Homo sapiens: one gene and its partners. The protein of the gene in region 2 interacts with the protein of the main gene of each other region in a pairwise test. Each region holds a gene or a part of one and is shown on either strand. Other genes may lie near its edges. The genes, in order: CD53, CNIH1 and SLC10A6.

Evidence for each region.
Region 1: the proteins of CNIH1 (region 2) and CD53 interact in binary tests that used the Homo sapiens proteins (3 or more experiments, as listed by UniProt).
Region 3: the proteins of CNIH1 (region 2) and SLC10A6 interact in binary tests that used the Homo sapiens proteins (3 or more experiments, as listed by UniProt).

The regions. Positions count from the first base shown.
Region 1 is NC_000001.11:110,893,648-110,897,147, forward strand, and holds part of CD53 (leukocyte surface antigen CD53), read left to right. Parts: intron 1-679; coding exon 680-754; intron 755-1,312; coding exon 1,313-1,408; intron 1,409-3,005; coding exon 3,006-3,086; intron 3,087-3,500. UniProt on the Homo sapiens protein: Structural component of specialized membrane microdomains known as tetraspanin-enriched microdomains (TERMs), which act as platforms for receptor clustering and signaling.
Region 2 is NC_000014.9:54,434,729-54,438,460, forward strand, and holds part of CNIH1 (protein cornichon homolog 1), read right to left. Parts: intron 1,710-3,732; coding exon 1,641-1,709; intron 1-1,640. UniProt on the Homo sapiens protein: Involved in the selective transport and maturation of TGF-alpha family proteins.
Region 3 is NC_000004.12:86,839,187-86,842,918, forward strand, and holds part of SLC10A6 (sodium-dependent organic anion transporter), read right to left. Parts: intron 1-3,732. UniProt on the Homo sapiens protein: Transports sulfoconjugated steroid hormones from the extracellular compartment into the cytosol in a sodium-dependent manner without hydrolysis.

The DNA of each region.
Region 1 (3,500 bases), on a different chromosome or scaffold from region 2:
CCAAGAGAAAGAATTTTTTAAAAAGTCCCTCTTCTCAGATAGTTGTCAGACTAATGGCAAAGGATGGAAGATAGCAGACATGGGGTAAGGCAAATGTTTTAAGCAGTCAAAATTAATGTTGGGGTAAAAAAGGTGAAGGAGAAGGAATAAGTGAAAATGTTTTCTGTTGTGTGTTATTAGCATAAAAGGAGTAAGCATCGAAAGCTGGAAACAAATATGAGTTAGAACCATGGCTAGGACCCTTCTTTCTACCATTGTACAGGGCTCCTCTCAGCCACTACCAGCAGTCCTCCACCCAGAGGTATCCCTGATCTTGTAGAAAGGACCAGGCCCCAAATGATCTAGTTTACCAACCTTTTGCTTAACTGCTTCAATAGGCAGATGTCAAAATTGCTTAACTTATTCAACAGGTGGTGGTGTGTATGTATTATGCATGTAGTGCTCTGATAGGCACAGCAGGTAGGAGAGAGCAAAGAAGACAGTTGATCTGCCCTCTAGAGTCTAATTGTAGAAAAAGAACACATATTTTCACAAAACAAAAGAAGGCTTACAACGGCCTGAGGAGGCAGAACAGGAACACCCTGTACTCGTGCAAATGCCCCTGGATGCTCCCAGAGCTGAGTGGGAGTGGGACGAGAATGGGGATCAGTGCTGTGAGAATGTATCTGCTTTGTCCCAGTTCTTCATCCTGCTGCTGATTATCCTCCTTGCTGAGGTGACCTTGGCCATCCTGCTCTTTGTATATGAACAGAAGGTAAGTTATAAAGACAACAACTTATTGTCTTAATACTGAAAGTGGGGAGTATGCAGTGGAGAAGTTGGTACAAAGTTACAGAATAAGTTCTATAATAGAGATAGAAATGAAGTGGAAGGATAGAGGAAACAGAGAGTAATTGTAATTGGGGGGAAAATTTGTATGAAAGAGATTGTATCTGAGTGGTATCTTGAGGGGTGCCTGGAAAGAGCAGTAAAACAAGTGTCTCTTCCTCTACTTGCTTTCCTCTGTGTGTTTGGCAGGAGAGAATGTCTGCCTCAGTGCCTAAGGATAGCCCTTGCTTTAATTGCTCCTTTTCCTCCCTTGTAAAGCCAGAGCTCTAGAAGGAAGCAAGCCTACTAAATACTTCTTCCTTCAATGCCACCTCATGCTCAGCCTGTATGCCCATAGATAAACACCCTCCCCTCACCCTTAGTTCTGAGGAGACCATTTGGAAGGGAAGCGCAAGTGGAACCACTAACCTATACTGGAAATTCCTTATTCCTTGAACTCACCTGCTTTTTACCATGTCTCCTCTGCTGGAATGTGCCTGCCCAGCTGAATGAGTATGTGGCTAAGGGTCTGACCGACAGCATCCACCGTTACCACTCAGACAATAGCACCAAGGCAGCGTGGGACTCCATCCAGTCATTTGTGAGTACAGGTGGAATCCTCTTCAGATCAGCCCAGACTTCATTTTCAAGCCTAAATCCTTGGGGGCTAGTTCCTTTTTCTGGAAGTTTCAGAATCTAAGGTCCACATCCCTGAATCCCAGAATAATGCCTTGGCTATCACAAACATGGGAGCCCAGTAATTAGTCTGATTAGTACAAAGTTCTCTACATTCTCTCTTTCATCCTTTTCTAACATGAATAGGTTTATTTTCTAAGTTCTGCTAGGATGTGAAGAAGACCCAAACACAGCAAACTGGATTAGTTTATGTATTTTCCAAAATTTTACTGAAAACAGCATTGTATAACACAAGAAATTGCCATTGAGTTCCCGAGTTGCCCAAATCAGGCTTGTTACCTAGCCCACCAACATCCCATTCCTCATGTGCTGTTTCCACCCACAAACGTGTATATGTACAGCATATACAAGCTCTGCATTCCTGACATGATGTGTTGGGAGATAAAGATGGAGCCTTGCACCAGTATAATCTATTTGTGTCTCGAAACAGTACCACTATGAAAGCACGCTGGCTTAGTGTGGAGTAGAAGAAATGGCACAGGAATTAGAGCCTGGAGACCAGAATTGGGTAGCCCTGGGGAAGTCACTTAACTTATTTAGATCTCCAATTCTTTATTTTTTTAATTCAGTTTAGAAAACTTTTTATTACATAATTTTTAGAAATATACAAAAGAGAAAAACAGAAAAATGAATCTCCCAACTCTTCAATAGTTAACATTTTCCAGTGTCATCTCATCTAATTCCCCACACTTTTTTCGTTAGAATATGTTAAAGCAAATACTAGACAATATATTATTTCACCCACTAAATATAAAAGAACTTCTTTTTAATACACCTAAAATTTTATAATTTCTTAATACCACTAATAAAGTCTATAATTAAATTTCCCTAATTTTCTCAAAAAATTTTAATTGACTTGTTCAAATCAAGATCTTAACAAGGCCTATGTGTTTATATTTGAATGATAGGTCTCTCTATTTATCTTTTAATCTATAATAGTACACCTCTTTGTTCTTGCTCTTTGTGGAAAGAAATTAGGCTATTTGTCCTTTAGACTTCTCCACTCTCTAGATCAGGCTAGTTGCTTCCTCGAGTATTTTGGTATCAGGGAGTCTCTGTCTCCCATAAGCCCCATGAACTTAAAAGTTTGATGTGGTTTTTGTTTTGTGGTAAGACTGCCATAGCTGTCACTTCCTGTTGCATCGTGTAAGCAGGTACATAATGTCTGATGGTCCTCCTTTCTGTGATCTTAAGATTGGTTGGTGGGTCCAGGGGTGGTCAGCCTAATCCCTCCATTATGCAGTCCCTGGGTGCCTTATTCTTGATCTGTAAAATGTGACTAGATTAAGCACAGGGGTCTCTACTCCACAGGGATCTTATGTGAATGAAATGGTATAACAGATTAGAAAGCACTTTGTTTTAAGGAGCCCATAGCAATCAGACCAATTCTGGACTTCTGCTATAGAGTCAGATCTGAAGGGCACACCTTTTCCTCTAAGGTCCACAGCTTTTTTTCACTGTTGACTTTCTAACCATCATCATTTTGGGGGTTTGGCTTTTAGCTGCAGTGTTGTGGTATAAATGGCACGAGTGATTGGACCAGTGGCCCACCAGCATCTTGCCCCTCAGATCGAAAAGTGGAGGTAATTTTGTCGGCAATGTTTCTGTTATTGACCTCTTTGTTTAAATGTTTAATTACCTCGGAAACTGCAGTCATAGAGGACCTAGACCTTCTATTGAGAAACAGGGGACCTTGAATAAAAGAGAGGCCAGGGCAACAACCTTGGGTAATTAGAAAAGTCAGAAAAACATACAAACAAACTCATTTAGACTAGAGACACTGTGATTGATCTTGCTACACTAGACTATTACATTAGAGGGGAACAGTTACTTTTGTGTGAAAGTAGGAGAGGGTTGTGTCTAGATATTTCTTAAGCAAGAAGTAGGTCTCCTTATGGTTAAAGTGAAATGTATAGGGTTGAGATAGAAAAGTTTCTCCCTCTCCCTCTTTCTCTGCTCTTCTTCCTTGGAGATGGCAGAATCCAGCCCCTTAGGGA
Region 2 (3,732 bases):
TATCAAAAGGGGAAATTTCAGTTTCTTCATTTCCTGGTAACAACTTCAACTACTTAGGTTAAGATGTTTTAAAATTAACACTTAATGCTTTCCAAGAGAAGGCAAATTCATCTTCTTATGTCTTGTTTCATAAGAGCAAAGAAACAGCTAATAAGTTAATACTTTTAATTGTACCTACATCAACTCTTACTGTAACAGTTCTCTAAAGACAAACTAGAAATCTCTTCCACCATCCACATTTATCTGGGAAACAATAATAAAGTACCAAACTAACTTTCTAGATGCTTTTCCAAATAAAATCCCTCTAGCACCTAGTGCTAGTACACTAGTATGCTAGACAATTAAAATCTACACAAACTCTCCCCTTCGTTAAGTAATTTTTAAAGCTGAATTACTGTATTTTATTTCTTGAAGACATACCCACTGCTTTCTTATAAACAACCAACCTTTCAATTACTGACCAGTCAGGCAAAATCAAATACACAGGCTAAAAGAGTATCTTCCTAAATGCAGGCAAAAATACAAAAAAACAAACTGGGTACCCTGGTGTGTGCCTGTAATCCCAGCTACCCAGGAGATTGAGGCAGGACGATCACTTGACCCAGGAGTTTGATAAGAGCCTGGGCAATATAGAGACACCCCCATCTCAAAAGAAAATTTAAAAATACATACATATATATTTTTTCAAAAACCCTAAGCACAATGGAGCTACATTATCACTAAATTCATGATGGCTCAGAACTCAGTGTAATTCAGGCCTGTTTTAGAAACAGAAAGTAGATACACACTAGAAATAACCACATAGACATTTGTATACAAATTGTTATCTACAAAATTATGGCACCCTAAGTCCAAAGAATGGCATTGCTGCGAGATCCCAGAGCCCCCAGAACAGAGCTATCCACCTAACAGGCTCTGAATAAACATCAGCTGAAAGAATGACTCATTTATTCCAGAATATGCAAACCAAAGATAAAACTAGATATGGCAGATAAGTCCATACTAAAGATTTCACTCACATACTACCTCACAATAAGTCACAACCCGAGAATCATCTCACCATCTATTAGTCATTTTATGTTAACCAACTTTCAAGTACTACACCAAATAATTTCACATAGAAGTGCCTATGGCTATAACATAAAAAAACGCATACGCATTTAACAGCTTTCCCTACTTGACTGGGCCAGCAAGCATATATTTGCATAAAATATGAAATTTCATGAAATCATAAACCTCAACAGGCATATGAACGAGCACACTGAACAAAACGTTACAAATACAAATGCCCTAACCCTCCCCATGAAATGAATATAGCATTAAAACATTTAACTAAAAAGCAGTACACACCTTTAATGCAATTTTGACTCTTTTAATCTTTTTGACCTTTTCAACTGTCTTTGGCCGACAATGTAAAAAGCAGATTGGAAGAATGTTAGTATGACAGCTGACAAGATCACCAGCAGATTAATAATAGAATAGTCAAGCACGACAGGAAAAAGAAGATTTTTTAAATTCTGCCTACTTCAAAAAGTACAAATATATTATGCTACTCAGAATACTGGCCATTTTCAAATTACTTCAAGTTAAAAACAAACATATTTTTAAAATCTAAAGATAAATCCTATATTATAACTTACGGGATTCAGGGTATTACACTGGTCTATAGGATTCTTGTAATCAGTCTTCAGCTCATCAAATGCTATAATCTAAAATAAAATTAAAACAGTTAGGACCACTCACTTTAATTAAAAGCAGCAACAAACCTGCCCCATCTTCAAATAATTATTAAAGTTAATAAAACAAGAACAAAAGTACACCAAGATCCCAAATACCAATTTACAGTAAACTCATATATGACAAAAAGAACCAGAATGCGATTTAAAGTGAAAACACTCTTATCTCAGTATCACTAAAATTTGGTATTACTGTAATAAATACCTTCAATTTTCAATTTCGTCAATGCCTCTGCTCAAGTTATTTCAACTTATCTCTACTCGAAATAATCTTCTGAGTAGAAAAATAATTTCAACTGTTTATCCAAATTCCTCTTTATCCTAAAAAAAAAACAAACCTTCCTAGGTCAACTTCTTTCTGCAGGCTTTCCTAACTCCTTTGGGCAGAAGTAATTGCCCACATCTCCACACAGCATGGGACTCTATAATGCCATCGATATGGCTTTTCTCACCCTGGAGTGTGGTATTTACACACAGGTCTGTCTGCCCCTCTACACTCTCAGGGAGAAGGACCATTTTTATTTATCTGTGCATGCTCCTCCTCCCTTGGCACAGTGCTCAGTGGGACACTAGAGATGGATTCGAACTCTTCAATGTGTTCCCATTGGTGCCCAAACACATACATTTGTAAGGATGCTTTTGTCCACACTCTGGAGGAATGTGGCTTCAACCTCAAGGGTCACTAGAATGTACATTAAGAGTCAAAATAGGGACTCTGCACCACTTTGTGGCATCATTTCAGGTGACAAAGAAAGAAAACAAAGGCAGCAAGTTGATGGGGGAGCCATTTTAGTTGCTAACACTACTCACCCCAGGGACACACAAACTAAGCTACCCTTCCCTTAATGAGTTAGGAATAGTATCTTTATATGTGAAAGTGTTGCTCAATATTATCAGTAATCAGTAAAGTTACATATTTCCATCTTTTAACATGACTGTTTATTTCCCTGTTAAAATTTAGATTCATAAAAAGACGGTTTTTTTAATTTCTAGAGTTCCATAAAATTCACCCACCTGCCCTAATAAAAACTCCAACCAAACAACAATAGAAGGAAAATAATAAAACATTAGAATGTAATCTCTGAAAGAACAAAGATTGTTGTATTTACTATTATGTCCCAGGGCCTAAAATATAAAATAGTGCCTGGCACATAGTTAAGTGTTCAATAAATATTAACTGGAAGGAGGGGGTGAAAAAAATAGCACTAGGGATTAAAAAAAAAAAATGCAGAACTCACCAGGGGGATTTCCCTTGGCTAATGACACCTAACACAAATGTTAAAAACATACATGTGTAATTAGAAAATACTAATTTCTGATTACTTATGGACGTTATTAGTCTGCTACTTGACGTCAGCCGTGGTATATAACCCCAATGCATTTTAGTAATAAAGCTCAAGACAAGGATGATAATCATAAGTACTTGTCTATAACAAGATCCAACTTAACAGAATACAAAACTTGTCTTTAAAACTGACATTTAATTGGACATTTTCTCCAGGTGACTTCAAGGGTTTTTTTTTTTTTTTTCTTGAGACAGGGTCTTACTCTGTCACCCAGGCTGGAGTGCAGTGGCACAATCTCGGCTCACTGCAACCTCCACCTCCTCGGCTCAAATGATTCTCCTGCCTCAGCCTCCGGAGTAGCTGGGACTACAGGTGCATGCCACCATGCCTGGCTAATTTTTGTAGTTTTTGTAGAGATGGGATTTTACCATGTTGCCCAGGCTGGTCTCAAACTCCTGAGCTCAGGTGATCCACCTGCCTTGGCCTCCCAAAGTGCTGGGATTACAGGAATGAGCCACTGTGCCTGGTCACAGGGATTTTTTAACTATGTTGTTGAATGGGTTTCTCTTTGAGTGCTATAGGCTAGGGTTTTCGAACCTCTTCTGAGAATATTCTTAATGATTTTCAAATCTTTTTGCAGCTATGTGGCTGAGCAAAGACACCCACAAAATTTCCTACAGAAGTATAACAAAAATAAAACAGATAAATCC
Region 3 (3,732 bases), on a different chromosome or scaffold from region 2:
GCAATTTGGGAGGCTGAATTGGGAGGATTGCTTAAGACCAGGAGTTTAACAACAGCCTGAGCAACATAGAGAGACCCTGGTCTCTACAAAAAAAAAAAAAAAAAAAGTACAAAAATTAGCTGAATGTGGTGGTACACACCTGTAGTCCCAGCTACTCGGGAGGCTGAGGCAGGAGGATGGCTTGAGCTCAGGAGTTTGAGGCTGCAGTGAGCTATGCTCACACCACAACACTCCAGCTTTGGGGACAGAAGGAGGCCCTGTCTCTAAAAATAAAAAAAGGAACCTTATAATATACCTTACTCTGCAACTTGTTTGCTTTTTTTCCCACTTCATCTATCACAGACATCCTCTCAGACCAATACATTTAAACTTATTCTTTTAAAGAACTGCGAAATATGCCATAATCTAAATATGCCATAATTTCTTCAATCACTTCATTAACCATAGGTCAGTTGCTTTTAGTTTTTTGCCATTATAAATAATGTTATAATAAACACTCTCATACATACTTCACTTGAAATGATTCTTTTCTTTCTGTGAATTCCCAAGGTGGAATTGCTATGTAAAAGTCTGTGTTTTTTGTTTTAATATATACTTTCAGACTACTTTCCAAAAAGATTGCTACATTTCACAATCTTGCCTACTCCGGATGTGATCAGTCCCTTCTAATTGTCATGCCAGCATTGAAAAATTGATCTCACTCTTGTTACACTCTTATTTTTTTTTTTTATTTTTTTTTTTTAGCTGGAGCTCACTCTGTCACCCAGTCTGGAGTGCAGTGGCCTGATCTTGACTCACTGCAAGCTCCGCCTCCCAGGTTCAAGCAATTCTCTCTGCCCCAGCCTCTGGAATAGGTGGGATTACAGGTACCCGCCACCACACCAGGCTAATTTTTTTTTTTTTTTTAATTTTTAGTAGAGATGGGTTTTACCATGTTGGCCAAGCTGGTCTCGAACTCCGGACCTCAGGTGATCCACCCACCTTGGCCTCCCAAAGTGTTGGGATTACAGGCGTGAGCCACTGCACCCAGCCGACACTCTGGATTCTATCAGGTTGTGCTTTCTTTCATGTCAAGTGGCTTCTTCTGTGTCCTCCTCTCTAAACAATCTTGCTTGTCAGACTTCTTCTCAACTTGTAGGAGTTCTTTTAAAATTAGGGCTCATATTACCATGAATAATACAAGTATTTTTTCCAAGCATGGTGTATATCTTTGACTTTGCTTATGACTTGCCATAATTAACATTTATATAGTCAGAGCTGTTTTTTTAATGGCTTCTGAGTTTCTTATCTTAAAGACCTACCCTGATCCGAGGGCATTCAAATATTGTCTTCTACTTTTTACTTTTATGCTTATATTTTCAACTGACTTAAAATTTATATTTTGCATGGTAACAGGTATGAGACTAATCCATTTTTTCTATTAATATATTGAGATGCAAGTGTGTCAATATAATCTACTAAAATAAACCATTTTCCACTATACTGAAGTGTCACCTTTATCATTTATTAAATGCCCAAGTGTACACAAAATATTTTCTGGAAATTCTCTTCTAGCTCATTGATAAATAACTTTCTTTTTTCCTGAACAAATACTAGACTAATTACAGTGTTCTCATATATGGTAGGGCAAATACCTCCACATAAATTTCCCTTTTCAAACTTGTCTTAGCAGTTCTTGCTTATATTTTATTCCATATGAAACCCAAAATTATTTTATCCTATTAAGAATGCTTACTTTAAGCAAAGATTTCTTCCTGACTAGTAGGCAATTTAAAAGAAAAAAAGCAGTTTGCCACAGCTCTCAAACCTCTGTATCCACAAAGAGGCTGTTTAGAAAGTTTTTTCCAAATTCTTAGTCTATGATAGTGCTACATTCCTTGACTCTCCATATTACTAAGTCCTGAATGGAATTCCATATTATATCACTTTACTCTTGAACTTCTGGAGAACCAGCACAACATTTCTCTACTGAATGGCTTTGGCTCAAACAGCAGAAAGGTAAGACTCATGATTATGGGAAGCAAAGTGAGATTTATATCCGACTGATTCTATATCCTTGATTACCTATGTGATTGCTTCCATGTTTATACAATTTTCAAGCCCATGGTGATCATGATATTGGTCAAGGATGGCAAGAGGTTATCCTGGTGCTCTGCCAACTGTTACAAATACCAGCAAAGGTGGAAAAGCACACAGTGAATGCCTGTGAGTACAGTGGAAAGTCACGCCTTGTATTTTTAGCCATGAAATTCCAATGTAGCATAAACAGAGGATGTGGCTAAGTAAGTCTCTTGACTTTTCATGTATAGGAAAATTTTTGGCAAAATCTAACTTCAGTATAACAAGATTCCACTTGCATTGAGAAGAATAGCATCATCATCTCCAAACTATTACAGAAAATAATGAGACATATTCAGCAAGTCTAGACAAACAGGTCAGTCTTGAACCCTCCCTTAAAGCAGGGAAATTACATATATACACATTACATTAAAATGCAGTGTCAATAACATTTTGCAATTGGAGATTAAGTTATTATAAATTGTTTTAATTTCAAAAATCCCATAAAATCAGGAACTCTGACCCTCAAAACTATGAAAGTATACACTTGCTTTCCGACTGAAAGAAATAAAAAATTATCCAGCTAACCAGATGGACACGGAGTGAGCTATAAGATCATACCAACAGATTTGACCCTAGAATAGAGCGTAAGGCCCGATTTTCCATCCCTCAATATAAATGTTACCCTTGTCTGCTGCCTTCCAATAATAATGAGTATTTATTGAGCACTATGTGCTAGGTGTTATGTCTCATGCTTTTATATACATTTTCTCTTTTCATCTACATAATAACTCTATGTGTGAGTATTATTTTCATTGTATAGATAAGGAAATTAAAGTACATAGAGACATGGAAGCTTGCATGAAGTCTCATGAATTCAGTCTCCGTTCTGTCTCCAAAGCCTTAAATGCAAAGGACCTTCAGTTTTCCACCAAGACATGTCAGATAGACCTGAACAATTTGAAGTTCTATTTCCAGGTTCTCTACTGAAGGACTAAGAACTTCTTTAAAGTTCAAAGGTCAAAGTTGGCCACTGAGCTCCACAGGCTCCAACACCACCAGTGGTCAGAATCCTTTGTCTGCAGCTGAGGACATAAATACATCCTTACGGAAGAATGGACCTCTTGTATATATCAAAAGTTCTCAAACAAAGATAGTGGGAGGCCAGGCGTAAGTGGCCCACACCTGTAATCCCAGCACTTTGGAAACCCTAGGTGGGAGGATTGCTTGAGCCCAGGAGTTCAAGACCAGCCTGGGCAACATAGTGAGACCTCATCTCTGTAATAAAAAATAAAAAATTAGCTGGGTATGATGGCGCATGCCTATAGTCCCAGCTGCGCTGCTCAGAAGGCTGAGGTGAGAGGATCACTTGACCCCAGAAGGCCAAGACTTCAGTGAGCCATGATTGTACCACTGCACTCCAGTCTGATGACAGAGTCTAAGACCCTGTCTCAAAAAAAAAAAAAAGAAAAGAAAAGAAAAGAAAAGAAAAGACAAGACAGTGGGAGCTGTCCTGAGTTGCATCAATAAATGGACACCTCTTTTCTTTCTTTCTTTCTTTCTTTCTTTCTTTCTTTCTTTCTTTCTTTCTTTCTTTCTTTCTTTCTTTCTTTCTTTCTTTCTTTCTTTCTTTTTTTTTTTGAGATGGAGTCTCGCTCTGTCACTTGCCCAGGC